Linked DNA regions of Homo sapiens. The protein of the gene in region 1 binds, or shares a complex with, the protein of each later gene. Each region holds a gene or a part of one and is shown in the gene's direction. Other genes may lie near its edges. The genes, in order: PPP4R4, PPP4C, PPP4R3B and PPP4R1.

Evidence for each region.
Region 2: PPP4R4 (region 1) and PPP4C share a complex: the UniProt entries of both Homo sapiens proteins name them as parts of the PP4 complex.
Region 3: PPP4R4 (region 1) and PPP4R3B share a complex: the UniProt entries of both Homo sapiens proteins name them as parts of the PP4 complex.
Region 4: PPP4R4 (region 1) and PPP4R1 share a complex: the UniProt entries of both Homo sapiens proteins name them as parts of the PP4 complex.

Annotation. Positions count from the first base shown.
Region 1 is NC_000014.9:94,169,956-94,177,321, forward strand, and holds the start of PPP4R4 (serine/threonine-protein phosphatase 4 regulatory subunit 4), read left to right. Parts: upstream 1-4,366; 5' UTR 4,367-4,510; coding exon 4,511-4,627; intron 4,628-5,097; exon of another isoform or gene 5,098-5,252; intron 5,253-5,505; exon of another isoform or gene 5,506-5,772; intron 5,773-6,098; coding exon 6,099-6,172; intron 6,173-7,366. UniProt on the Homo sapiens protein: Putative regulatory subunit of serine/threonine-protein phosphatase 4.
Region 2 is NC_000016.10:30,078,991-30,085,904, forward strand, and holds the end of PPP4C (serine/threonine-protein phosphatase 4 catalytic subunit), read left to right. Parts: intron 1-2,209; exon of another isoform or gene 2,210-2,268; coding exon 2,269-2,320; intron 2,321-3,493; coding exon 3,494-3,544; intron 3,545-3,755; coding exon 3,756-3,857; intron 3,858-4,403; coding exon 4,404-4,577; intron 4,578-4,664; coding exon 4,665-4,791; intron 4,792-5,675; coding exon 5,676-5,865; intron 5,866-5,942; coding exon 5,943-6,072; 3' UTR 6,073-6,386; downstream 6,387-6,914. UniProt on the Homo sapiens protein: Protein phosphatase that is involved in many processes such as microtubule organization at centrosomes, maturation of spliceosomal snRNPs, apoptosis, DNA repair, tumor necrosis factor (TNF)-alpha signaling, activation of c-Jun N-terminal kinase MAPK8, regulation of histone acetylation, DNA damage checkpoint signaling, NF-kappa-B activation and cell migration.
Region 3 is NC_000002.12:55,614,621-55,622,112, reverse strand, and holds the start of PPP4R3B (serine/threonine-protein phosphatase 4 regulatory subunit 3B), read left to right. Parts: upstream 1-4,490; 5' UTR 4,491-4,827; coding exon 4,828-4,969; intron 4,970-6,606; coding exon 6,607-6,662; intron 6,663-7,492. UniProt on the Homo sapiens protein: Regulatory subunit of serine/threonine-protein phosphatase 4 (PP4). May regulate the activity of PPP4C at centrosomal microtubule organizing centers.
Region 4 is NC_000018.10:9,604,552-9,611,582, reverse strand, and holds part of PPP4R1 (serine/threonine-protein phosphatase 4 regulatory subunit 1), read left to right. Parts: intron 1-7,031. UniProt on the Homo sapiens protein: Regulatory subunit of serine/threonine-protein phosphatase 4. May play a role in regulation of cell division in renal glomeruli. The PPP4C-PPP4R1 PP4 complex may play a role in dephosphorylation and regulation of HDAC3.

The DNA of each region.
Region 1 (7,366 bases):
TTTTTTTTTTTTTCCAAGTTCTATAGGGTGCTGGCTTATGGCCCCATTTCATATTGAAAGCCAGCAGTCAGCCAGGTGTGGTAGCTCATGCCTGTAATCCCAGCACTTTGGGAGGCTGAGGTTGTCCTTGAGTCTAGGAGTTCCAGATCACCCTGGGCAACATGGTGAGATCTCGTTCCAACAACGACAACAACAAAAATTAGCTGGCACACAGCTGTAGTCCTAGTTACTCAGGAGGCTGAGGCAGGAGGATCACTTGAACCTGGAAGGTCAAGGGTGGAGTGAGATTCTAGCTCAAAAAAAAAAAAAGTGGCTGGTTGCATCCTTGCATGGCATCACTCTGACACTGAACTTCTGCTTCCCTTTTTCACGTAGAAGGTCCCTTGTGATTACACCGAGCCCACGGAGGTAAACGAGGATAATCTCCCTACTTCAATATCCTTAAATTAGTTGCATCAAAATCCTTTAGGCCATGTAAGGTAACATGCCCATATGTTCAGGGAATTAGGATGTGGACGTCTTTGGGGAAACATTATTTTGCTTCCCATTATAATCAATTGATTCAGCACAACTTCTTGACTCTGTTCTGAACCTGGGTTCAGAGGGACACTGGTCTGGTGACAATGATAATAGTAACAACAAACACTTGTGCCAAGAATGTTTCTAAGCATTGTATGCATATTATCTCATTTAATTTTCACAACACTTTGTACTAAGTGCTACTATTATTCCTAGCTTAGCGATGAGTGAAGTGAGGAGCAGAGAGGTGAAATACTTTGCTGAAGATAGGGAGCAGCAGAGTTTGACTCAACCCCAAGTACCTGAGCTTCGAAGTCCATGTGCTTAGTTAGCACCATGCTATTTTTTTTTTTAATTTTATTTTTTGACAGGGTCTCATTCTGTCGCTCAGGCAAGAGTGTAGTGATGCAATCTTGACCTCCTGGGCTCCAGTGATCCTCCTGCCTCAGCCTCCCAAGTAGCTGTGACTACAGGTGTGCACCACCATACCTAGCTAATTTTGTTATTTTTTGTAGAGACGCTATATTGCCAGGGCTGGTCTTGAGCCCCTGGGCTCAAGCAATCCTCCCACCTCAGCCTCCCTAGTAGCTGTGACTACAGGTGTGTGCTACCACGCTCGGCTAATTTTTGTATTTTTTGTAGAGACAGGGTTTCACCATGTTGCCCAGGCTGGTCTCGAACTCCTGAGCTCAAGCAATCCACTTGCCTCAGCCTCCTAAAGTGTTGAGATTACAGGCGTGAGACACTGTGCCCGGCCTACCATGCTATTTTTAAATGAATAAACAAAGTGGATAAATCTAGTTTCAGTTAGCTGTGTGTTCATGACTAAGTCACATAAATTCTCTGAGCCTCAATTTCATTATTTGTAAAATTAGAATAGTGATGCAGCTTTTCTGCATTCCACAGGGATGATTTGAGGGCACGTTGAGACAACATGCATGAAAGCAGTTCAGATAAGGAAAACAGAGATCCAAGAGTCATTCTGCCACATGTCACTGGCAGAGCCAGGACAGGGACTCAGGTTTCCTGGCAGCCAGGCTGGGCAGGCTACTTCCACCACAGAGTGGTAATTAGAGCAGTTACAAATTCCAGTCATCAAATTGAACATTTTCCCTTCATCACCCTCCTGCCCTGGAACGGCCAACATTAAAGCCGTATCTGTATATTCAATCAATTGTTCATTAAGAACGCCCTCCAGTTTTAGAAGATACTGTTACAAAATCCAAATGTGAGATAATACTTCTTAGCTGGAACAGGGTAAAGTTGACAGGTAATATTTTGTATCATTTACAAATCAAAAGGCAGAGAATTTCAGAAATTGACAGAAAGGGGAGGCTGTAAGATATCTGCTTAAGAAAACCACCTCCTCATGTGTTTGCCTCTTTTCCATCCTCATCCTATGTTTCTGTCCTCTTCTACTTCCCTTCACTTTTCCTTAGTAAAGCAGGGATTAGAAAACCTGAATTTTAGCTGTGGGCATCATTATTGACCATTTTGCTTTGAATTTCAAAGGCAAAATTGAAGAACAAAAGAGCCAAGAGTGGGAGATTCACTCTACCAGATCTTAGGATGTATAATTAAGCCACAGCAATAAAATCAGCACAGCACTAGCATAGGAACAGATCTAGATCAATAGAATAGCCACAAGAGCTCAGAGACAGACGTGTGTGTCTCTAGGGACTTGGCATACGATACAGACGCCATCATGCATCTGAGGGGAAAAGATGGATTGTTTGGTGGGTGCTGCTGGGAAAACTGGCTCACTAAATAGAGTTAATAATACTGTATTCCTGCTCAAACTGTATGCAAGGTGAACCCCAGGTGGATTAAGACCTGTGACAGGTAAAAGTATGAAGCCAACTAGGGGAAAATGTAGGAGAATATTTTGCGACTAACAGGTGGGAAAAGATTCTTAAACAAGACCCCAAGACCACACTGCACAAGGCTAAAATTTGATGCATTAGGCTAAATGAAAATTAAGGATTTCTCCTCCATTGCAGCATAGCAAAGACCAAGCAAACAGGATGCATGAAAGATTGAGAGAAATATTTGCAGTGTTTTTCTAAAACTGACAAAAGATTAATATTTAGAACATATAAGAAACTCAACTGCTTCAATTCATTCAGAAAAAATAATAAAATCCAGCAGAAAATAGGTAAAGGATGTAAATAGATAATTCACAGAAGGAAAACAATCTCGATGGTTCTTAAGTATATGGAAAAATGGTTAACACCACCAATCAAAAAAATACAAATCGAAATTACAATGTGATACTACTTTACTGATTTCAGATTGACATAAATTAGGACATCGGATAATACCAAATGTTAGCATATAAAATGGGAAACGGGTACCTTCCTACCTTCATGTGCCATTGGTGGGTGTGAATGGCAAAGCCATCTGGAGGCCAACATGACAGAGTGAAACCAAACACTGTGGACTTCATGACCCAGCGACTCAATTTCTTATGTTCTGTAAGGGACACGTCTAACATCCATTCCAGCATGGTCTGTGGTAGTAAGGAACTGCTGGCGACCTAACTAGCCGTTATTTGAGGAATTGATAAGTAGAATATGATAGACACACAAATCAAATATTATTATTAGTCATTATTAATGAACTCTTGTTGTATAGTGTCACATGGATAGATCTCTAAGACACTGAGAGAAAAACAAGGAACAGAATGAGTTCTCATCACAATGCCGTTCATATATGTTAAAAACAGACACAAACCATGTATCTTTTGAGGCTGTATACGGTGCATGAACTGGGACATACCTTAATAGAGGAGAGGGTGCATATGGCGGGTAGAAGAATGGGTGTGGAGAAGGAACGAGTAAAAAATAAAAACAAAAAAGAAAAGGGCCTTGCTGACTGACGAGCTGAACAGTACGAACTTGTCCCCAAGGTCCAAAAAAATCGCCCCAATCCCCCTTCCATCTCGTCCCATTCTTAACAGAACCAAGTGCAAGGGACTCAGCGTGGCTGTCCAGAGCAGGGCTTTTCTTCATCAAGGACCTAGGTCCTCTTCCTTCCACCCACCTCGCCACGCCCTCGGTGCCCGAGCCCCGAGCTGTACTTCGACGGCACTTTTCAAACACAACCAAACACACCCAGGCTTCAACCCCGGACCGGCTTGCTTTTATTATTTCTCTTGGGAAAGCCTTATCGGTCGCTAAGATTCAGTTTAAGTGACTCTTCTCTGGGAGGCCTTTTCCGAATGCTGCCCTTGACCAAAAGCCAGCCCCTCCAGGGCTGTATTCCCACAGCCCCCTCCCCCGTCAGCCGGGCACCCCGCGTCCTAACTGCTTATTTTGGGCACTCAGCGCTCCCCTCAGGGCTGGAGTTGTGCTGGGGGGGGTCTCTGGGTTCACGGCCCGCCAGCTGGGGTGGGCGGTCCTGGGAATAACTGGACAGTTAAGTCAGCAGGTACAGCCGCAGCCCAGCCAGCTCCCTCTCCTCTGCTTCCGCTCTCATTGGCTCAGCCTCCCCGCCCCCCAGCCCCCGCCCCCCAGCCCCCCTCCCCAGCGCCCGCCCCCAGCGCCCGCCCTCAGCCGGCTGCGGGAGGCAAAAGGCTCTGCGCACGCGCTGTGGGGTGGGGCACACTTGGTTGGGGGCGGACGGGGGTTTAGGAGAACGGCGAGGAGCGGGCGCAGAAGGGTGGCGGGGCCGCCGGGTCGTTGCGCGGCAGTTGCGTCCGGCCTCTTGCGCGCGGCGCCCGGGAAGGGGCGGGGCCGAGGCGGGCAAGGTGGCGGGCCCCCGCCCCTGGCCCCGCCCCCGCAGCCCGCCCGCGAGCCTCGCCCCGCCTCCTCGCCGGGCCCGCCCCGCCCCCTCGCCGGGCCGTGCTCTTGCTCCCGCCGCCTGGCAGCCTCACGCTCGGCTCCAGCGGCCAAGAGCCGGAGAAAGTCCTGCTGGTGGGCGGCCGCGGGGCTGAGGGCGTCCGGCATCCCGGGGCCGCTCCGGCCCGGGCGGCGAGAGTGCCCGGCGGTCCATGCATCCGCCGCCGCCCGCCGCCGCGATGGATTTCAGTCAGAACAGCCTGTTCGGTTACATGGAGGACCTGCAGGAGCTCACCATCATCGAGAGGCCGGTCCGCCGGAGCCTCAAGGTGCGCCCCGGGGAGAGGACCTGCCCTCACGGCGTCCGGCCGCCTGCCCCGCGCGGTCCCGCGCTGATCTCTGCCCCACGCCACCACCCTCCCCTCCTCCGGGCCGCCGGGACCCTCTCAGTCGGGCCGGCCCCTCCTCCTCCACCCCTCTTGCCGTGTCGCCCTAAGCCAGTTCCCTCTCGGACCCTTCCTCAGAGCGGACCGGGTCCTCTCTAGTCTGGACCCCCATCCCCAAGGGACGGGTCCCTGCCCCAGCCCCGGACCGGCGCCAGCCCCGCGGCCCTTGCCCCTCCTGAGGCGTCCGAATCCCCCCGGCCCACCCCCAGGAACGGCCGAGCTCCAGCCCTCGGGGCAGCCCCAGCGTCCTCCGTCGCGGACCCCCTTCCTTCCGCCCCCCCCCCCCAAAGGAGCTGCCCCTCGAGGCCGCAGCCCACTTCTCCCCGGTCCTCTCCTGGGCTCCCCAACCTCTGGTCCGCTGACGCCGCCCGGGTTCTGGCCCCAGGCCCACCCATCGGTCCACACATTCCCAACTCCTCCCCCCACCTCTCCCGGAGACACCACCCCGCGTCCCGTCCCCTCACCCCCAGCCCAAGTCAGATCAAGCTCGGGTCCTTCTGCCCTCGAGGTAGCCCGGCCTCCCCTCGCTTCCCAGCCAGCACTCTTTCTCAGTGTCGTCCTGGTCCCTGTCTACAAGCCCTCGCGACCCTTTGCCGCCATCCTGAGTCACCGCTCATCCTTTCCTCCCATCCCCTCCAGGACTGTAGCTGGGACCCAGCTCCCCAATCCCCTTGAGGGGGTCAAGCTTCAGCTTGCTCCCCCCACCCCTACTGGCTCTCCCACCCCGCAGAGTCATCTTCCTCCCGGCGGCTCCAACCTTTAGCGCCAGCAAACCTAGTTTACGGACCGGACCCCTTTCCCCTGGCCATTGCTTAATTAGCTGCCTTAGCGCCTCTCACTCCCACCTGCCGCAATATCTCAAATCTCTGGTTTTTTTCCAGCCCCGGAGTTTATTTCCTTCCCTCCCCCACTCCAGATCTTGTCCTTTTCATGCCTACTCGGCTGCAGTCTTCATCCATCTCCCTTTTAGCATTTCTTGGGGTGGAAAATGCTGGAGAAATAGCCTTGAAGTATTAGAGATAAAAAGTGTGTGTATTCGTTTTATAACATGCGTATGAAATGGATTTCAGCCAAGGTTCTGAAGCCACGATGTGATTTTCAAGCTGCAGTCCAGGAGCTAGAAGGATAAAAACAGAAAAATACAGCCCCCTCCCCAAACTCCCCAAACCACCCAATTAGAGACCTCCGTGATTGATGTCGCCTGGTATCCTCAGCTCCTTGATTAGTTTTCATTGTTAATGCTTAATTGTGAAACTTTTTCATTCGTTTATCCTCATAGAGGGTCACTGGGAGGTTGGGGGGCAAGACTGAACCAATATTTGTGGTGCATAAATGTGTATTTTACCCTTGACAGACACCGGAAGAAATAGAAAGATTGACAGTCGATGAAGACCTCAGTGATATTGAAAGGGCTGTTTATCTGCTCAGGTATTTCCTAGTCTTTCTGTGAAATTGCTCTTCTTTTTTCCCTGTGCAGCAGAGATGAATGCTTTCTAAAATGTATGTTCGCGTTATGTTCAGATTTACTTAGCCACTTGAACAGAGTACTTTTGTGTGCATAGTACTTAACTATATTATAAATTAGATTTGGCTATGGACTTATGACTTTGAGAATTTAAATAAAATACCTAATTTATAGAATGTTGCTTGGAGGAGCAAGAGCAGATGGTTGGAGTTGAACCTCATCCTTTTTTTCTTTTCTGGCTTTGGTTTTTCTCGCGTAAGATTCAGTAAGTTTACATGAGACTTGAGTATACAGTGATTAGTTTTAAGTTCATTGTAGAGTAGGAACATTATACGGGATCTACTATACGGAAAAAAATCCACAAATATGGTAGTTCATTTTGCTGTTCAGGATATCCTGTTTGTATTACTTTTGCCGTGCAAGCTTTATGATTTTGTCTGAGGGGTTTTAGAAATTTGGTCGAGCCTACTGTCATTTCAATTTCAAACCATCTCACAGGCTCTACAGAATTGCTTAAGGCAAATGGTTATTGCAAATATTTACAAGATTTTTCTGAACTATTTAAAACATTGTCTTGTAGATTGAGCATCTTAAAAACTAATACAGTGAACATGAATGATGTTTTAATTAATTGATTAAAATCCTTTAGAAACAAATTTCCTACAGCATTTTGCGTTTATTTAAAATTGTTCATTAGCTTACACAACATATTTTTCCCTTTTGGCAAATTAGTCACTCTTTTTTTTTCCAGAATCAGGTTTTGAAAACTGATGTAATTTACCTCCTAGGATATTTGTCACCCTTGTTTCCTTAGTTCAGCGCCAGTTTCAGGTACTGGCAAGTTTCTCGTTCTCCTTTCTTGTTTACAGATCATGTTCCAGTCCCATGTTACTCATTGAATGATTCTGTAAAAAAAAAAAATCCCTCTCCAGGTCTTCAATTTTCTTAATTACTTTTTTAGCCTTCTAAAAGTGGCATCATGAGTTTCTGTTGTAACTTTAGTCAGAATATCAGCATATTTACCATGTAGACCATTCCCTCTGATAATTGTATCATTTAGAAATGTTTCTGCATCTTAGACTTTATGTTGATGTTATTTTCCCCCCTCTTTGGGGTATCTGTGGTAGCATGCTCTCATCATTTCTATTTACTTCAAA
Region 2 (6,914 bases), on another chromosome or scaffold:
GCGCTGGCACTGAGGGGGGCTTTGCAGAGAGCACGGGCCCTGCATGTGACCTCCCTGGGCTTCAGGTTTTCACTCAGGGTCTGTGGAAGGGGCTGGCATAAATTCTCAGGAAATTGGGCTTCTGGGTTCCAATTTAGCCACTCTCCAGCTTGGTGACCTTGACCCTCCCGCTTTTCTGTAAGCTTTGGTTTCTTTTTTTCTTTTTTTTTTTTTTTGAGACAGAGTTTTGCTGTTGTTGCCCAGGCTGGAGTGCCAGTGGCCTGATCTTGGCTCACTGCAACCTCCACCTCCTAGGTTCAAGTGATTCTCCTACCTCAGCCTCCCAAGTAGCTGGGATTACAGGCACGCGCCACCATGCCCAGCTAATTTTTGTATATTTACTAGAGACGGGGTTTCACCATGTTGGCCAGGATGGTCTCAATCTCTTGACCTCATGATCTGCCTGCCTTGGCTTCCCAAAGTGCTGGGATTACAGGCATGAGCCACCGCGCCCGGCCTAGCTTCGGTTTCTTTACTGTTACGTGAGGCTGAAGAGAACCTCCCCAGTCTGTTGGAAAGGTCACTATGAGCAGTTGATGGGGAAGGATGTTCAGCACAAGAAGCAGTGCAGGTGGGAGAGTCCGGGTACTGATGTGGCCTCTTGGACCACCGCCAGTGCTGCCTTCTGTTCCCAGAAAGCCAGGGCAGACCTCCTTCGTGCTGCCTCTGCCATACAGAGCAAGGGGCATAAGTGAATCCTCCTGTCCACTGAGCTCAGGAAACTCATTCTAAGGGAAGAGATTGGCAGAAAGAGGGGGGCCAGGCGAGTTGGGCCTCCCACATCAGAATATCTTGATAAAGAGTCAGACCCCAGAGCCAGGCTTCCCTGGTTCATATCCCACCTGTGTCACTGGCACCAAGCCAGCCTCCTTCCCTGCTTCAATTTCTTCATCTGTGTACCGGGAATCATCATAGTACCTGCCTGCCAAGCTCTTAATAACATTTGTGGCACACAGTATGAGCTCGAATGTTCACTGCTGCTATTACCAGGCAAAATTTGGAAATACAGTGTTGCTTAAATTGGGTATCTATAGGCTGGGTGCAGTGGCTCACATCTGTAATCCCAGCACTTTGGGAGGCAAAGGTGGGTAGATCACTTGAGGTCAGGAGTTCGAGACCAGCCTGGGCAACATAGTGAAATCTCGACTCTACTAAAAATACAAAAATTAGCTGGGCGTGGTGGTACATGCTTCTAATCCCAGCTACTCGGGAGGTTGAGGCAGGAGAATCACTTGACCCAGGAAGCAGAGGTTTGCAGTGAGCAAAGATGGCGCCACTGCACTCCAGACTGGGCAATGGAGCCAGACTCTGTCTCAAAAAAAAAAAAAAAAAAAAAAAATTGGGTGTCTTACCTGGCAAAGTGATTTCATCTCCTGCTCACTCAAGTAGAAGTAGACTGCACTGCAAGGAGAAATAAAAAATATTTAAGTCCTCATAGTCATAAAGAAATACTGAACACATGGCAAGAGCACCTCACTTTTTTTTTTTTTTTTTTGAGATGAAGTCTTGCTCTGTCGCCCAGGCTGGAGTGCAGTGGCGCGATCTTAGCTCACTGCAGCCCCCACCTCCCAGGTTCAAGCGATTCTCCTGCCTCAGCCTCCCAAGTAGCTGGGATTACAGGCACGCGCCACCACGCCTGGCTAATTTTTGTATATTTAGTAGAGACAGGGTTTCACCATGTTAGTCAGGCTGGTCTCAAACTCCTGACCTCGTGATCTGCCCACCCTGGCATCCCAAAGTGCTGGGATTACAGGCATGAGCCACCGCACCTGGCCAAGAGCGCATCACTTTGAAGGCGCATCCACTGTGGGCCTGCCCTGGGCACCTACCCTTGTGTCTGGATAGCCTGGGAGAAGGGCTCTGTGATTGGCCAAGGGTGACTTAAGCTCTGCTGTGGAGAGGATGGGGAGACCCGCCTCCCAGGAGTGAGTCCTGGATGCGGAAGAGGGAGCGGCAGGGGGAGTCAGGGCTGGAAAAGTCCCAGCCTGCTCAGAAGGCCTGGAACGCTGGGATAAGAGGTTGGACTTTGTCCTTTTGGCAGCAGGGGGCCACGGAAGGGTGTTGCATGCTGAAGGGCCGTGGTCAGCCTGTTTTGGGGAGACTGTACGCTTCACTCCTGCCCCCTGGAGCTTCCAGGACTGCCTCATATCCTCCCCTCCCCCCAAAAAAGGTCAGGAATTGGGCTGGGCTGGCCTGGCTGTGGTGACCCTGGTCTTCTCCTGTCTCCAGAGAGATCTTGGTAGAGGAGAGCAACGTGCAGAGGGTGGACTCGCCAGTCACAGTGAGTACCTGCTGTCCCTGCAGAGCCAGGCCTGGTCTTTCAGGCACATGAAGTTTCCTCTTCATCTTGGGGGCTCTATAAGCCCAACCCTAAGCTCTTTTATCTGTCCTTTCCCTCACCTTCAACGGAGCACTGCTAAAAGAAGTGGGGGTTGCTGTGCACGTTGGCTCACACCTGTGATCCCAGCATTTTGGGAGGGCAAGGTGGGCACATCACTTGAGGTTAGGAGTTCGAGACCAGCCTGGCCAACATGGTGAAACCGTTTCTACTAAAAATACAAAAATTAGCCACGCGTGGTGGCACGTGCCTGTAATCCCAGCTACTTGGGAGGCTGAGGCAGGAGAATCGCTTGAACCCCAGAGTTGGAGATTGCAGTGAGCTGAGATCAGGCCACTGCACTCCAGCCTGGGTGACAGAGGGAGACTCCGTCTCAAAAAAAAACAAAAAAAAACAAAAAAAACAGGCCGGGCGCGGCGGCTCACGCCTGTAATCCCAGCACTTTGGGAGGCCGAGGCAGGTGGATCATGAGGTCAGGAGATCGAGACCATCCTGGCTAACATGGTGAAACCCCATCTCTACTAAAAATACAAAAAAATTAGCCAGGTGTGGTGGTGGACACCTGTAGTCCCAGCTACTCGGGAGGCTGAGGCAGGAGAATGACGTGAACCCAGGAGGCGGAGCTTGCAGTGAGCCGAGATCGCGCCACCGCACTCCAGGCTAGGCGACAGAGTGAGACTCCGTCTAAAAAAAAAAAAAAGAAAGGAAAGAAAAGAAAGGGGTTATGGGAAGGGACTTTGGATTTGTTAGTGGAGATTCTTGGCCAGGGCAGAAGGACTCCTATTTGGCGAGTGATTCTGCTCACATATCTCCAGGGCTCTGTGTTAGTAACTTGATTCTGGGTACTTTGTGGGGAGTAGAGAGAGGAAGGGGCCGGGACATCTACCTGGAAGGACTTAGTTCTAGCTCTTGCCTACAGAATAGTTGGTACTCAGCATAGGACAGTGGGTATGGTTCCAGACCAGACTGACTTGGGGTGGGAGAGGAGAATTTTGGTCCTAGGAAGTAGAAGTGCAGCCAAGAGTGATAAAGCTCACTAAAGCAGCGGGTGTTTGGAGGGTAGTCCCTGGCAACTCCCACTGCTTGAGTTCCAACCCCACTCTTCCTGTTCCCCAGGTGTGCGGCGACATCCATGGACAATTCTATGACCTCAAAGAGCTGTTCAGAGTAAGAGTGTGGCCAACACTGTGAAATGTAACGGGGGGATGACTGGAAGACCCCTGTAATTGAGGGTGGGAGCCTTAATTTGGGGCGTGGAGTGGGGGCAAGGGGCCCCAAGTTAGATGGGTGGTTGTGGAAGAAGGGCCTCCGCTGGACAGAAACAGGTAGGGGGTAGGGGACTGTTTACGACAGGGCAAAACTTTCTACTTCCCCACAGGTAGGTGGCGACGTCCCTGAGACCAACTACCTCTTCATGGGGGACTTTGTGGACCGTGGCTTCTATAGCGTCGAAACGTTCCTCCTGCTGCTGGCACTTAAGGTGGCAGTCCCCGGCTTCTGCACCCCCAACCTGGGCGACCTCGGGCCGGGCCTGTCTTAGTCCGTTCCGCCCTCATCTCCTATCGTGACCAGCCCCACCTTGGAGCTGTGTCACTGGTGATGGACCGATTCTGCTTTTGGGGGTGGTCAGAGACTTGATGGGGGTTGAGGCCAGCGGGGCAGCATTCTGGGAGGGGCAGAGGCTCACTGTTGCGAATGTGGCAGGTCATTGATGCCACTGGTGGGAGAGGCAGTGTGGGGCCAGATGACAAAGGGCCTGGGTGCCTTGCTAGGGACCCGGTCTGTGTCTGGTAGGTGAAAGAAGAGCCATTAGGTTCATAGTTGAGGGAATGGGTCAGCTTTACATTCTCTGGAGGGGTCGTGTGGGCCTGGGAGGTGGCTGATGCCACACGATTCAGGCAAGAGGTGCCAGGAGTGTGCTGGGCAGTGGTTGTGAGGATGGCAGGCTGGCGGGCACGAGGAGGTCAGAGAGGGATGTGTGGAGAGACCGTCTAGGCGCCAGCCCTGGCTTGGTGGCCACCCCCAGGTTCGCTATCCTGATCGCATCACACTGATCCGGGGCAACCATGAGAGTCGCCAGATCACGCAGGTCTATGGCTTCTACGATGAGTGCCTGCGCAAGTACGGCTCGGTGACTGTGTGGCGCTACTGCACTGAGATCTTTGACTACCTCAGCCTGTCAGCCATCATCGATGGCAAGGTAAGCCAGCCCAGGGCTCCATGGGACAGGGAGAGGAGGGGGGCTTCAGGCCTCAGCCCCGTCCTCTTTCCCTGCTCTCCCCTGTAGATCTTCTGCGTGCACGGGGGCCTCTCCCCCTCCATCCAGACCCTGGATCAGATTCGGACAATCGACCGAAAGCAAGAGGTGCCTCATGATGGGCCCATGTGTGACCTCCTCTGGTCTGACCCAGAAGGTGAGGGCATGTGGGCAGGGGCAGGCAGGGACAGCCAGGAGGGGTTGGGAAAGAGAGGGAGCAGGGCTGGTCTTCACTGTCACTCGTCCTCCACCTGCCAAATGGCTGGAACCCTGGAGGAGGAGCAGGGAGGCCTGCATGGCAGGTGCTTTGAGCACACAGTGGCTTGGGGCATGGCCCAGAGGGCTGTGGAGGACAACCAAGTCATGGCTCCCTGAAGTGAAGGGGCCTTAGAACATGACAGCAGCTTCTTCAGAGGTCAGAACCCCAGAATGGTAGCCCCCTGAGACCCCTCATTTTGTGGGTTTTCCACTAGTGTAGAGCAGAGCTGAGATTTAAAGTCAGGTCTTCTGAGGACCAGCCAGAGTTCCTGTTGTCACAGGCACACACGCACAGGCAGCCTCTGCTCCAGCGCAGACACACACACACATACACATAGCCTCTGCTCCATCACAGCCACACACACGCACACGAGGCCTCTGCTCCATCACAGCCACACACATACAGACACACACATGCAGACACACACATGCAGCCGCTGCTCCACAGTCACTCCGGACCTCCCTGTGACAACACAGGGTGCCCTTCTGTCTCTGGGAGTGCCCCTTTCACTCTTATGTGCTGTTTGGACGGGGATTGTATGATCACTGTGATTATGAGGGGGCCCCAGGCATTGGGCGTTCTTTCTCCTCTGGAGCTTATCTGCCCCTACATTTGCTGTCCTGGTCCCCGCCATCCCACAGACCATATTCAGGCCCCATGCTCTGGTCCCACGGGCCTCTGGTGGACTTGGGGAGGGGCCAGGCTGCTCACCCTCAAGGGGCAGCGCTGGCAGCCAGAGAAGCCTGAGGACATCCCTCTCCATCCCTCCCTTTCCGCATCAGACACCACAGGCTGGGGCGTGAGCCCCCGAGGAGCCGGCTACCTATTTGGCAGTGACGTGGTGGCCCAGTTCAACGCAGCCAATGACATTGACATGATCTGCCGTGCCCACCAACTGGTGATGGAAGGTTACAAGTGGCACTTCAATGAGACGGTGCTCACTGTGTGGTCGGCACCCAACTACTGCTACCGGTGAGCCGGCTGGGCCGGGCTGGGATGGGCGGGCATCTGAGCCGAGCTGCTCCTGACCCTGCTGCCCCGCCTTCCAGCTGTGGGAATGTGGCAGCCATCTTGGAGCTGGACGAGCATCTCCAGAAAGATTTCATCATCTTTGAGGCTGCTCCCCAAGAGACACGGGGCATCCCCTCCAAGAAGCCCGTGGCCGACTACTTCCTGTGACCCCGCCCGGCCCCTGCCCCCTCCAACCCTTCTGGCCCTCGCACCACTGTGACTCTGCCATCTTCCTCAGACGGAGGCTGGGCGTGGGGGGGGCTGTCCTGGCTCTGCTGTCCCCCAAGAGGGTGCTTCGAGGGTGAGGACTTCTCTGGAGAGGCCTGGAGACCTAGCTCCATGTTCCTCCTCCTCTCTCCCCACTTGAACCATGAAGTTTCCAATAATTTTTTTTTCTTTTTTTCCTTCTTTTTTCTGTTTGTTTTTAGATAAAAATTTTGAGAAAAAAAATGAAAAAATTCTAATAAAAGAAGAAAAATGGTTTTTGGGTTTGTGCCAGACTTGGTTGGGAATGCACAGGGTTGCTGGCCTGGGACCTGGGGTGGACGTCAGGGCCTTGACTGCCTCAGGGCCCCGACCTGCCAAGAGGGCCAGGCTCAGGCCAGTCAGCTTGCCCAGGGCCTCCAGGGGCCGCTGCCTGCTGGCTTCCCCAGCCCTAGGGAGAGGGCTCTGTTCTCATGGGCAGCCTTATCTTATTAACAGCATACACACACAGGCACACACAGAATCACAGGATTCTGATTTCTCCATTTTCCTGAAGAGGAGATGGGCCTAGAGGGCCAGTGGATTTTGTGCTAGGTCAGGCAGCTGGAAACACAGGTCTAGATCTGGGCCTGGGTCTCCTAGCAAAGCCTTTGCTCACCCAGCCCCGCCCAGGGCCAAACACAGGAGCCCAATGTTTCCTGAGCATGGATGGCTTTTGAGTTTTATTAACAAAAATACTCTGGTCCCAGAACAACAGACTGGTGTGGCCTGCACCAGTGTGTGTGGGGGGGTGGGGATTGAGCCCC
Region 3 (7,492 bases), on another chromosome or scaffold:
CTACTCGGCCCACCAGGATGTGTCTGGCTTGTGCTCAGGCACGAATCCTGCAGCCACCATGGCCTCAGCCCCTGGCAGGAGGGGGTGTGTGAGTGAACGAGTACAGGGCAGGAGTGGGCTCTGTGCGGGGCTTGTGGCTGGACCAGGTGTGTCACATTGAGGGAAATGTGGTGGCACCCAAACAGGGGTGCTCATGACCCTGAAGCCCCAGAGGTGTTACAGTATGCTAAGCACTCTTTTAGTTCTGCCGTCTGCAGGCCAACGGACAGTGGCATGTTAACAGCTCTATCAGTCCCATTGCCCCACTCAGGCCCGTGGCTTCAGGACTGGCTCTGCCCCACTGCTGCTTCCCATCGCGTTGTGTGGGACGGTTGCCCTCCACCAGCAGAGGGCAAAGGGCCACAGTGTGTACAGCCTTCTTTGTATCTGCGTTTGGTGGGTCCCGAATTTTTCTTCAGCGTCCAAGAATGAGGTTACGCTGACAATCAAAGGGTGAGGAGGGTGGAGAAGAGTTTTATTTGAACTATGAAACAGCTCTCAGGAGAGAGAGGATGCAAGGGTGGTCCCTCACTCAAAGTCAGGTGGTCTCTCTCTCAGTGCGGCTGAGTCCACAGCTTTTATGGGCTCAGAATGAAGGCGTGCATGCTGATTGGTTTGTGAGTATGCAAAAAAGGCTAAAACAACAGCACCACTCAAAGGTAGGTACAACAGTGTAAAAAAACAATTAGGAAAGGATATGTGTAAAATAGGTGAAGGGTGGGGATCAATCAGAAGAAAGCACGCCAAATGGGAAGAGAGGTTCTCAATCTGGTCTGTGGATTTATCCTGGTCTTGTGGCTAGCCTTTAAACTGTCCTCAGCTTGAAGGGTTTCACCAGGGACCTGCCCCTGTCTGCCTAGGATTTGTCTGCCTTTTGCGGCTATCACAGTGGGATACTATGTAGCCATTAAGTAGAATGAGTTAGCTCTATATACACACTGACCCAAAAAAGGCTGTCCTGGGCACGGTGGCTCACCCCTGTAATCCCAGTATTTTGGGAGGCTGAGGCAGGTGGATCACATGAGGTCAAGAGTTTGAGACCAGCCTCACCAACATGGTGAAACCCCATCTCTACTAAAAATACAAAAATTAGCTGGGCGTGGTGGCGGACACCTATAATCCCAGCTACTCAGGAGGATGAGGCAGGAGAATCGTTAGAATCCGGGAGACGGAGGTTGCAGTGAGCCGAGATGACACCTCTGCACTCCAGCCTGGACTGTGTATGGAAAAAAAGAAAGAAAAAAAAAGTGGGGGACAGGGGTTCAGATATGGTGGCTCACACTTGTAATCCCAGCACTTTGGGAGGTCAAAGCAGGCAGATCCCTTAAGCTCAGGAGTGTGAGACCAGCCTGGGCACCAACATGTAGAGACCCTGTCTCCACAAAAAATAAAAAGGAAGGAAAAGAATAGTATTCCATTACAGTCATGTGTCCCTTAACAATGGGGATGCTTTCTGAAAAATGCATCATCAGGTGATTTTTTGTTGTGTGAACATCATAGAGTGTACCTAAACAAACCTAGATGGTAGCCTACTACAGAGGTCCCCAACCTTTTTGACACCAGGGACTGGTTTTGTGGAAGACAATTTTTCCATGGAAAGGGGGAGTTGGATTCTCATAAGGAGTGCACAGGTTAGATCCCTTGCATGTGCAGTTTACAATAGGGTTCTCACTCCTACCAGAATGTAATGCCCCTGCTCATCTGACAGGGGGCAGAGCTCAGGCCGAAATGCTGGCTCCCCTGCCACTCACCTTCTGCTGTGCCGCCCAGTTCCTAACAGGCCCTGGACCACTACTGGACCACTACATACATATCTACATATAATTACCTGTATATGCATAGAATATCTCTGGAATAGGACTAGATACATACTTTGTGGGCCCAGTGCAAAATAAAACCGCAGGGCCCTTGTCCAGAAACTTTCCTGAATTTCAAGTTAGTGACAGCAAAACATTAAACCAAGTGCCTATCTGTACAGGTCACCACCATGAAGCCAGCCCTGCTCTGGCAACATACACAGGAAAATGGAATAGAGGTGATTCCAAGAGGAAAATTCTATGAGTGGCAGGAGACAAAGACTAAAAGAAGACTTAGTTTTCACTATATATCTTTGCCTTTTTTTTTTTTTTTTTTTTTGAGACAGTCTGTCACACTGTCCCCCAGGCTGGAGTGCAGTGGTGCAATCTTGGCTCACTGCAACCTCTGCCTCCCAGGTTGAAGCGATTCTCCTACCTCGGCCTCCCAAGTAGCTGGGATTACAGGCCCCCACCACCACGCCCAGCTGATTTTTGTATTTTTAGCAGAGACAGGGTTTCACCACGTTGGCCTGGCTGGTCTGGATCTCCTGACCTCGGGCAATCTGCCCACCTCGCCCTCCCAAAGTGCTGGGATTACAGGCGTGAGCCACCATGCCCGGCCTCTCTTTTTAATTTCATATGTGTAAAGGCATTACTTATTCAAAACAACAAAAAAGGAAGATTGTGGGCTTATTTGGTTAGCAACTCTTTGAAGTGGAACTTTGATGACTGCCTGAAGCAAAGAACATCTGCTGGGGAAGATGTGGTTATGGGGGGCCCTCAGACTTGGATAAGCACTGAGCCCTGTGCTTTGGAGGGGTCTGAAATCCATGGAATCATGGGACTGTAGCCACCTGCAGCCCACTTTCCCTTTTCCAGACCATGCTGTGGGCACTCTAGTATTCCCTATCCCAAACGCCAAGCCTGACTCCAGGGTCTGCACAATCCTCTTCCCAAGTTCAGTCTTCCTGGGGAGTAACCAAAGGGTGAGGCTTGGACAGAAGGCTGGAGAGTCTAACATCAGGCTCAAAAATTGTGTGAAGCATTCTCTGACTCTTCCAAGACAGAAATGTTATTTTCTCTGAGGTCAAAATACATTTTGTCCACTTTCATCACATCAATTAATTGGCTCTATTGTTATGTATTATATTATGATGATTTTCTTCAAGTACATTTTCTGAGGTCTCTAGATTAAAAAAAAAAACTATGAATCCAGATTTTGAAATTATTTCTATCAGCATGTGTTCTGTACACTGACCCACGTTGTAGTGTACTGCTGAAGGGTGTCCACACTTAAGCGATCTGGTCAAAACATAAGCACGTTTTAACAAGACCATTGATTAGTTATGACTACAACTCCCAAGATGCACTGCAGGGTCAGTGTGCGCGTCTCGCCTAGTTTTCACCGATCAGGCTAATGAGCTGCACAGAAGTGGCAGCTGAACAAGCTGAGAGACTGTATTAAAGAACGAATATAGCGGGGATGGGGAGCAGGCGTCTACGGTCCCAGCTACTCGGGAGGCTGAGGTGAGAGGATCGCTTGAGCCCTCAAGGCGGAGGCTACAGTGAGTCGAGATAGCGCCATTGCACTCTAGCCTGGGAAGCAGAGAGAGACTATCAAAAACAACAAAACGAATAAAGGGATTCTACCAAGAGTGAGCTGGACTGAAATAAACGACACGCTACTACGACCCAGCGCGTGACTATATCCACCGCACAATGTGCGATAATAGCCTCAATGCAGAGAGAATTCCTCCTTTCCTTATTCAGTGCAAGAGAGCCCTATAGAGAACGCAGGAAATGCCCGCGAGAAACTGAGAAGTATCAAAACAATCACAGATATGTTAGGAAAGTAGCTCCCCGCCACTTCCCTAAACTTATCATAGCAGACTTACTTTCCAAGGTTACAAACACAAGAAGAGCACTGTATTTTCATGAAGCGGAAAATGTGCTTTACAATCGCCAGCTACTAAGAGCCTTAACGGTGAAGCGCTCTGCAAGAAACAGGAAATCGTCAACACACTTTCTGCATGAATTGCCTGGAGAGTTGTGTCCATAGACAATTCCTGGTTAGATGCTTAATTGTAGCAGACTCCATAACGGGGTTTAGCGGGTTTCCATTCGGCAGAAAGGGCTCCACGTTCTTTTTCACAGAAAGGTTTAAACTTATTTTTCCTCCTCAGGCGGACGAAGTGAGCGTCGTTCCGTGAAGGTATGAAACCCTTTTCCTTCCTTTCTGTCCCTGGTTACTCCGGTTCAAGGCTACGTACTTCCCCGGTTTGCTTTGTTTTTTCCTCAGAGCTAAGTTCCTAGGAACGTCACATACTGGTGCCATCCAACAACATGACGACGTGCGGAACCGAAGTCCCCTTCCACCTAGCGGCCTCTCGCGGCGCAGGCGTGGACGGGGAGATCGCGAGAACCTCCCGCCCAATTGCGACCCCGCGCCAAGAGGCGGGGCCGAAAGAGGAGGAAGTCGGGCCGAAAGAGGAGGAAGTCTCGCCGAAGTACTCCCGCCCCAGTCGGTACCCCTCCTCGCGAGAGCGCCGAGCATTCCGGCCTGGGAAGCGCGTGCAGAAGCGGAGGTGCTGCTCATGGGACTTGTCGGCCGCCGTAGCCCCTGCTAGGACAGCCCGTGCGAGCCTGCTGGAGGAGGAAGAGAAAGGCAGAGAGAGTCGGGTTACAAGATGGCGGATCTGTAGTAGTTACCGCGGCGGCGGGAGAGCAAGCGAGCCCTGGGGGGCAAAGAGACGGGAGAGTGGGTGTATGCGCGGGTGAAGTGAGAGGTAACGGGGCCTCCGGGCGGAGAGGCCTCAGTGGCTCTTGTCACCCCTTCTCGCGGCTGAACCTTTGGAGCCATGGTGAATTCGGGCCTCTCCGAAGCCGCCGCCGCCGCCACCGCCACTACTGCCTTTACCGTCTCCTAAGAGTGAGGAGCGCGGACGAGGTAAGCGAGGAGGCGGCGGCTAGAGCGGTGGAGACAGCAGCCACCATGTCGGATACGCGGCGGCGAGTGAAGGTCTATACCCTGAACGAAGACCGGCAATGGGACGACCGAGGCACCGGGCACGTCTCCTCCACTTACGTGGAGGAGCTCAAGGGGATGTCGCTGCTGGTTCGGGCAGAGTCCGACGGTAAGGTTATCGGAACTGTAGAATAGGGGATAGTGCCTCTGGTTGGGGCACAGCTTGGGTTTAGGGCCCTGGGCCCGTTACCGTTGCTACTCCTTCGGGACAGCGCGTTGGTTCTGAACTGGCTCTTGTGTACGGCAAAAACAAAGTACTGTACTTTTGACTGGACTTATCCTCGGAGACCGAGACTCTCTGTCCTTCTCCCATCTCTCTTAAGGATTGGACTCCTTCCTTTCCAGTCCCTCCTCTTTTGAAGAGGGGAGAGTGTGAGAGAGAAGGGAGGAAGTAGTGAGAGACTAGGTACTGATGTCGCCCTAGGAGCTGACACCTTCCTCCCCCTTTATTTACTTATCCATTATACGTCTAGTACAAACGGTTTAGGGAAACTTTTCTTTCCGAGTGTTTTTAAAAAAAAAAAATTGTACCAACGGGCCCCAGGTGCCACAGTCGACAGGTGCTGGGGAAAACCGAAAGGCACGTTTTCCTGGCTGTATTGCTGACTGTTGCCACGATACATGGACACACAAGCACATACATCTGTAGTCTGCATTTCTTCGGGCTGCCTTTGTAGAAGGCGCTATGAGAAAGTGAATGCCTTACAATCTAAGCAAGTTGGGACACCAAAGCAGGTTGTAAACTGCTGTGTTCTTTGGTTTATTGTAGTCATGTGAAGTATTTTAAATTACAAAATGTAGAGCCGTAATTAAAATGCCTTTTATAGTATAATCTGGACTTGATTTGAACAACTGATATAGGCAGTTAGAAAAATAATCTTAGGTTTAGTCTTGACATATTTTGTATTCTTGCTTGTTCCCTTTTATTTTAAATAGTCATCACTTCTACAGAAGGTGTTCTTTTGTTCTTAATGAGGAAAGGATAAATGCAGCACTGTAATTTCTATACTAAGTATTTAATCCCTGTCATGATGTTTTTGTTTTGTAATTTGCATTATTTGTTAAACTGGGAATGCAATAAAACAACTTTTGTTAAAACGAATGGCTTGAAGTGGTCATTTAGACCTTAAAATTTTTATTTCAATAAAATTTTAATAGTCATCTAGTCTCCTCATTCCTTGGTTTGATTGTTGGTTTTAGATTAATTTTTCCTTTAAGGGTGTATGGGAATAGGGTGAAATATTTTAGATTAAATGTGAAGCCTAGATTTGGAGAGAAAATGTGAATTCGAATACATTTTATTAAGATGTCCAACTCGGTAAAAAGACTTGAAAAGTTTGCGGGGGCGGGGGGCGGGGTTTAAATGTGTATTTTTTTTTTTTTTTTTTTTTTTTTGGAGACAGAGTCTTGCTCTGTTGCCAGGCTGGAGTTCAATGGCGCGATCTGGGCTACTGCAACCTCTGCCTCCTCTCCCTCTCTCTCAAGCGATTCTCCTGCCCCACCCTCCCGTGTACCTGGGACTACAGGCATGCGCCACCACGCCCAGCTAATTTTTGTATTTTTAGTAGAGACGGTTTCACCATGTTGGCTGGAATGGTCTGGATCTCTTGACCTCGTGATCTGCCCGCCTCCCAAAGTGCTAGGATTACAGACGTGAGCCACTGCGCCCGGCTTTAATGTGTATTCTAATTTTTATTCAGGGTTTTATCATTTGAGACTTATGATGTATTATTTTTTATCTTTCAGGATCACTACTCTTGGAATCAAAGATAAATCCAAATACTGCATATCAGAAACAACAGGCAAGTAGTTGTTTATCTTTAATTTGAAAGACTTCATCTGTGATCAAGGAAGTATTAATCTGACAAAGGTGGGAAAGCTTTCCTGACAAGAAAAAAACATGTTTGGTAAACAAAGATCATGTGTATTTCTCTTGCAGGTTAAAAGTTTCAGACTGAAAAAAAGTTTTTGTACTGGTGATAATTATCATTTTTGGATTGAGCCACTGTCGGTTTATTCTAAGATGTATTTATTAGTATTATTTAACTGTAGTTAGCCAAGTCTCTTCTATACCTTGTACATGAAACCTTTTATTCTGAGTCACGTTTAAAGGAAATGACATAGAACAAAATTCAAAGGGATACTCTTAAAGCAAGGAAAGCCTGTTTGTGGTGTGAAATTAAATCCTTTGACTCAAGTAAAGGTAGAGGTTTTGAAGTAGAAGCATTAAATCCTGCTCTTTAATTGTTGTGTATTTTTAATATAGTAATCAATGGATACTTTATAAAAATGTACATTACCAAGTATGTAACATCTTCTGTTAATATTGTCTTATTTGGGAAAGAAAATGTGTATTGTATTTTAGCACGCCTGATTAATCTGAAAATGGTAGCAGTGATTCAATCTTTTTTATTCTGTGAATGTTTTTGTTTTTATTATGAAATATATTAAAATTGAAAAGTACAGAGAATAATCGGTGTCTACTGTAACACCACCAGATTTAACAATGTTAATGTTACGCCATATTTGTTTCAAATATTTTTGTAATATTGAACATTATGGATAGAGTTAAAGCTTGTTTGTATCCATCCCGTTGTTTACATTCTCCATCCCCTACATAGGTAACCACTAT
Region 4 (7,031 bases), on another chromosome or scaffold:
TTACAGGTGATACCTTTACCCAGAATATTCAGGAACAAAGGACTTTTGGACATATGGCCAGTTGAAGGACCACTTCCCATCTCTTGTGAAGGGAGAAAGAATGAGGGGGAACACTGGGCCATGGTGCCTCCTTAGAGAGCAAGATGGTTGGTAAAGGACTGAGACAGCTGTCACATCCTGGAGAAGCTGGAGAAGGTAGAGGACCCAAAGGTAGAGGAACGGAGCTTGGGCTGCCCTTATAACACGGTTGTTATCTCGTGAGCCTGAGTTTCTCTGTCTATGGTAAAACTCCAGAGTATGGAGCCCAACCTCCAGAGTAGTTGTAAACAAGTCCTACTACTTCAGCCAAGCTAGGTGTAAGTTGGCCCTTGGGATGGGAAGAAATTGTTTTCTGGTCAAGCTCTAGAATCTTGGTTGACCTTCCTAAATGCAGAACCTGGACTATGAGGGAAGAGACAGTAAGTTCTGTTGTGCAGATGATCTAGGAAAGGACCTAGCTGGAGTCTAGGACTTGAAAGAGGGGCATTGCCAGACATTGCTAAGAGTCTCAGGTCTTTCGATTTGATTTGTTTTAATCCCGTCTCTGTACAGAGGCACAGAGTCGGGGAAAAGGTTGGTCAAAGACTGACTTGACTGATAACCTTTGGAGGAAAAAAAATCCTAATGAGGGAAAAATGGATGGTATTTGTGTGTGTGTGTGTGTGTGTGTGTGTGTACACATAATTTCATTGAAGGAGTTTCATTAGAACTTAAACTTTTATCAAGTAACTTATAAAGGTAAGTAAATGAAATCATTATCAGGTACTCTTAAATTTAGGAGAATAGGCTGGGTGCAGTGGCTCATGCCTGTAATCCCAGCACTTTGGGAGGCCGAGGTGGGCGGATCACGAGGTCAGGAGATCGAGACCATCCTGGCCAACATGGTGAAATGTCTACTGAAATACAAAAAAAAATTAACTGGGCGTGGTGGCGTGCACCTGTAGTCGCAGCTGCTCAGGAGGCTGAGGCAGGGGAGTTGCTTGAACCCAGGAGGTAGAGGTTGCAGTGAGCCAAGATTGTGCTACTGCACTCCAGCCTGGCGACAGAGCAAGACTCCGTCTCAAAAAAAAAAAGTTTAGGAGAATAATGCAATAAAAACCATATGTATTTAAGTTTAAAAGTGAAACTTTCAGTACTGTATCATGAAATACTTTGAATTTCAAATTGAAAGCAAACCAGTGACTCCATTTGAACATAGGTTATCTCAGCAGATTTCAGAGTTGGGTAAACCCTTTTTAACTTTTTATATTTAATTATGTTCCTTAAATAATGGGAGACAATACAAAATTGTAGATGTTTAGAAAAAATTATTTCAGATTTCTGTTTTAGTTTCCAAAGATGCAATTTTGATTCACATTTAAGTTGGTAGATTCCTAAAATGAAATGAGACTAAGATACGGTTAAGATTTGATGAGCCAATGCTTGTAAAAATAATTTCATTGAAGGAGTTTCATTAGAACTTAAGCTTTTATCAAAGTAATATGTTGAAGAATGTTATTTTTAAAGAATGGCTATGTAACGCTTAGTTTACAGTGCCTTTCATACACAGGTTATTCTTCACAGCAGTCCTGTGATGTGTAGGCTGTGGTATTCTAATACTAATAAGTAAGTTGACTAATGCCCAAAGGGACTAAAGAAACAAAACTCCTAAGTTTAGACGGAATTTTAAGCTAGGCCTTCTGATTCTAAATATCATATTTTGAATATTTTCTTAAATGGCCCAGTTTAAAATATTGATCAACCCAAACTTGTACAGGCAATTTCTTTGAACTCGTTCTTAAAGTACCCTTGAAAATTAATCTGGGATGCTGCATGTGGTTTAGTTTACACCTGGAGAATGATAGAGAGGATGGAGCTTGGGTATAAGACAGCTTATTTAGTCGTTAACTTTTATCTCAGCTGTAACTAAGTATGACGTTGAAAAGTTTTTGAAGCTATGTTATTGAGTATGCCATACAACAGACTTTTTTCATATTTAAGTTTTGGAATCCTTTTACATTATGCTGTTTTTCGGGTTTAAGGGCGGTGTTGAAGTAGAGTGAAGGATGGGTCCAGAACTAACTGAGGGTAACCGCCTAGACCGCACTCTGTGCAGAATCTTCAGGCCTTCCTACCATGTTTCAAAACCAGTTCTGATAAGCTTAGAGTCCTTGCTTCCGGTGGGAGGTGAGGAGCAAAATATTGGGGCTGTATCTGGTAGTGGCCAGGGAATCATTCAGAAACCTTTGGAAGGTGCCCTTGAACGTGAATCATATTTAGGAGTATTGTTAAATAGGGATTTGGGAGGGTGAGTCGTGAGACCTGGTAGCCTGTTTTGACTGCTGCCAACAAGCCTGGATGGAGAGATCTTTATTTAGAGATAATATCATTGATATCTTAGAAAAGAGTGCTTTTAAAATGGTTTCAGTGGTACCCACATGTGTGTTGGATCAATTAATGATACCTCTGCTAACAACTTCCCACATAAAATTGAAAGAGAGAGAGAGAGAGACAGAGAGAAAAACCCCTTTGTAAATATGCTTGGGCCTGTAGCTACACGATCCACTGCCCTCCCCCCTCCAAAAAATAAAAAACCAAGACACCTAAATGCATACTTTTTGTTTGTTCCTGCCTGTGAAAGATAAATAGACCTCAGGAGGTAAAGTTCAGAAGTCTGCTGCCACATTTGTTTGATCTCTGGTTTATTATTTCTGGTCCTTTTCTCTCAGTCTCCTCAAAACAATGAATGTATGTTTATTAAACTATTGTTACCTTGCTCCTATGTTTGTATTACATCTTTTTTTTATATTTTGGAGTAAAAGAATTTGAAAGTTCCTAAATTTGAATTAGAGTTGTGTTGTTGTTTTTAAATTGGAGCTGAGAATAAACCTAACTTAGTGTTTTGGGCAGAAGTCTGGATGGCACACCTATGGAATTTTGGCTGAGGAGGTATTCCCTCTAATTTCTATAAGAGGGTCTGGAACTTGCTCTGCTTTTAGCACAGATCTTTGAGCTGGTGACATCATCAATGCTGCTTCCTCCACATTCATTTCTTAACTCTCCTAACTTTTAAGTCATCTTAGCTTCTTATCTCCCTAGACTAAGGAGCAAACTTAACTTACTTTCTGGCCTTATTGATATGAATGTGGTTGGTATTTGAGCATCTATCATGCAGTCATTCTGGAAGATACCTCAGTATAGTTTTGTGTAGGGGAAAGAACACTGGGCTTGGTAAGCCTTTAGACCTGAGTTAATATTCTGGCCCTGCCATTTATTCTCTTTATAATCTGAGCAAGTTAACTTTTTCTCAGCTTTCTACCTTTAAAATGTTGATGGATTTTTGGATCATCTGCAGTTTTTTTGCTGTTACAAATAAAGCTGCTATGAACATTCACACACAAGTCTGTGTGAATATATATGTTCTTTCTCTTGGGTATACATCTAGAAGTAGAATGGCTGTTTAACTTTTTAAGAAACTGCCAGCCCGGTGCGGTGGCTTATGCCTGTAATCCCAGCACTTTGGGAGAACGAGGCGGGTGGATCACCCGAGATCAGGAGTTCAAGACCAGCCTGGCCAACATGGTGAAACCCCGTCTCTATTAAAAATACAAAGAATTAGCTGGGCGTGGTGGTGCATGCCTGTAATCCTAGCTACTCGGGAGGCTGAGGCAGGAGAATCACTTGAACCTGGGAGGCAGAGGTTGCAGTGAGCCGAGATTGCATCATTGCACTCCAGCCTGGGCAACGAGCGAAACTCCATCCAAAAAAAAAAAAAAAAAAAGAAAGAAAGAAAAACTGCCAAACTGTTTTCCAAAGTGGTTATATCATTTTCCATTCCCACCAAAAGTGTATGAGAGTTCCAGGTCCTCATCATCATTGTCAACACTTAGTGTGAGCAGTCTTAATTTTAGCCACTCTTATTAAATGTATAATAGTATTAATTTGTGGCTTGAATTTGCATTAATGGCTAATTATGTTACTCTTTTTATGTGCTCATTTGCCATCTAACTTATCTCCTTTGGTGAAGTGCCTTTTCACATCTTTTGCTCATCTTTTCATTGGGACATTTTCTTATTAAATTTTGAGAGTTCGTTATATATTACAGATACTTAAGACATATACAAAGGCAGATGGACCATCATGTCTCTACTACTCGGTTTTGACTTTCATTTATCCATGTTTCTGTTTTTGTTTTTTTTTTTTTGAGACAGGGTCTGGCTCTGTTGCCCAGGCTGGAGTGTAATGGCACTATCTTGGCTCACTGCAACGTCTGCTTCCCGGACTCAAGTAATCCTCCCACCTCAGCTTACCAAGTAGCTGGGACCACAGGCCTGCACCACCACGCCTGGCTAATTTTTTTGTATTTTTGGTAGAGATGGGGTTTTGCCATGTTGTCTAGGCTGGCCTTGAGCTCCTGAGCTCAAGCAATCCACCTGTCTTGGCCTCCCAAAGTGCTGGAATTACAGGTGTGAGCCACTGCACCCAGCCTGATGTAGATCACTTTTATATTTAAATCTATGAAATTCATTTTTGATAGAAATAACTCATTTATTCAATACTTCATTTATTTAAGATTGGTGGCAATTTGGACCTGAGTTAGTTCAAATTTTGTATTTGGATTACCTGTGGGAAAAAAGGTTACTACCAAAGTAATTGCGTTAAGAGTGCAAAGAAAATTTTTACTCACTGAAGGGAACAAATATCTATAATATTTGGGAGATCCACAAGTGTATGTCAGAGCAAGTGCTTTGTTATACTACCTTTCTGTTAAATACTGTTTGTATACATAATCTTGGTAACTAACTTGAAACTAGATAAACATGCCACTACTGTATTATATAAATAGAAATACATTATACATATGGTGTATATATATAAATATAAATACATATATGAATATACATATAGTATACTTCAGCAAATTATTCTTGCCTTAAATTCAGTTGTGCTATAGGACAATTTTGCATTTCTAAGGATTTAGTAAGCTTTTAGTATTGATATTTGAAGGAAGGGTTTCTGATAAACATTATTTATATTATTGCAAAGTACAAAATTAAAGTTTGACATACCTGTTGCTGGAGACTATAAAGATTATGTTGTATGGTCCCTGTAAAAGGCCAAATATTAAATAGTTTAGGTTTTGTGGACCATATGATCTTTGTTGCAGCTACTCAGATCTGCTGTTGTAAGGTAAAAGCAGCCATGACAATACAGAAATGAATGAAAGTAAGTGTCATCCAATAAAATTTTATTTACGAAAACAGAAGGTGGGCCAGTTTGGCTCGCTGGCTGTAGTTGGCCAACCCCTTCACTGTGCTATAAAATCCAAGGTCTGTAACATTTTTATTCTTGACTCATCACACAGTGTTCAGCAATACATCTCATCAGTGCTTAATGTAGAATAAGTATTGAATGAATCTTGATGTTTCACACCAAGCTAAATAAGACCGTAAACCTAATTTGGGGTCAAATAATGAAATTATTTTTAATTAAACTTGTTATTTTGAAAACTTTCAGACCTATACAAAAGCTGCACAGATATTGTAATGAATTCCCAACTCTTCACCTGAATTAAGCTGTTAACATTTTGCCAGTTTGCTCGTTACTTCTCTATACAGTTATGTACACACACACAATGTAATGTAATTTTTTGGTGTACCTTTGAAAATAGGTTGTGGTCATTGGGACCTTTAGCCTGTGTCTCCTAAGAACAAGGGCACTTTTACAATCATAGTAATGAAATTTGGGAAATTTAACATTGCTACAATCCTGTTATATAGTATGTAGTACATATTGAAATATCCCCAGTAATGTCCTTATGGCAACTGTCTTTTGCTGTAAGGACATTACTTACAAACTTACTAGTTTGGAACAATTTCTCAGCCTTTAGCATTCATGAAATTGACATTTTTGAAGAGTCCATTTGGTTTTATCTGTTTCCTCATGATTTGATTCAGGTTATTCTTTCCTTTTTTTTTTTTTTTTTTTTTTTTTTTTTGACAGGACTGCTACATAAGTGATAGTGTAGTTTTCTCAGTGCTTCAGATTAAGGAGCACCTGATAGCAGTGTCCATTACTGGTAGTGTGGAGGTGATGTCTATCAAATTGCTCCACTGTAAAGATTCTGTTTTTCCTATTGTAATTAGTAAGGAAATAGTTTGACAATGGGGAAATACCCTGTTTCCAAACATTTACCCATTTAGTGTTAGAATGTGTTGATGATTCTTGCCTGAATTAATTGCATTTACTAGCTGACATTCTGCTTTATAGAAGAGCCTGATCTTCCTCCCTATTCATTTGTTGGTATATTTATTTGTTAAAATATAATTTTAAAGCCCCAAATCTTTATAAGGTAACTCATTCTGTGGTGTATCTCATTGTCTTTCATTTTCTAAAATGTAAAGATGGGAAACAAAATGTGGCCGATTTATTGTGGCCTGAGCAGTATCTAGGGAAAAACTGAAGGGAAGGATAGACTATGAGCTTTTTTATGTTTTACGTTACATTATTAGAGATTATGTAGAGAATAGAAGGGTGTTTTGATCAATTTTGATAAAAGTTTGTACGAATTAAAAAGTTCTCTTTGGTGTGATACTTCTCAAGGTATTAATATGCTAATGTGCTTGTGAATATCTTAGAGAAGGATAAAGTATAGTAAACTCTTGACTTATCAATTATCCCTATGGACTACATTTTCATTAACAAATATTAATGAATGTGCCTCCATGAGAAGCATTGGACTCTGTTTTTTAGATAATGAAAAGTTTAGCAAGACAATCTTTAGGGAATTTATATATGTTGGGGAGGGAGAGGAGAAGGGAAGGTAGGAGAATATGAAAAAAAGGAAAAATACTTTGCAATTATTGGTGGAGTAAAAGCAAGGGCACCCAAGACGGCAGGGAATTAAAAGGAAGAACTCTTAATTAGAAAATAGAAAATGCCTCCTGGGTGTTGTTAGTAATAGGTAAATTTAAGCTGAGATGAGGTTAGAGAGGACAGAAATGGAACAGATG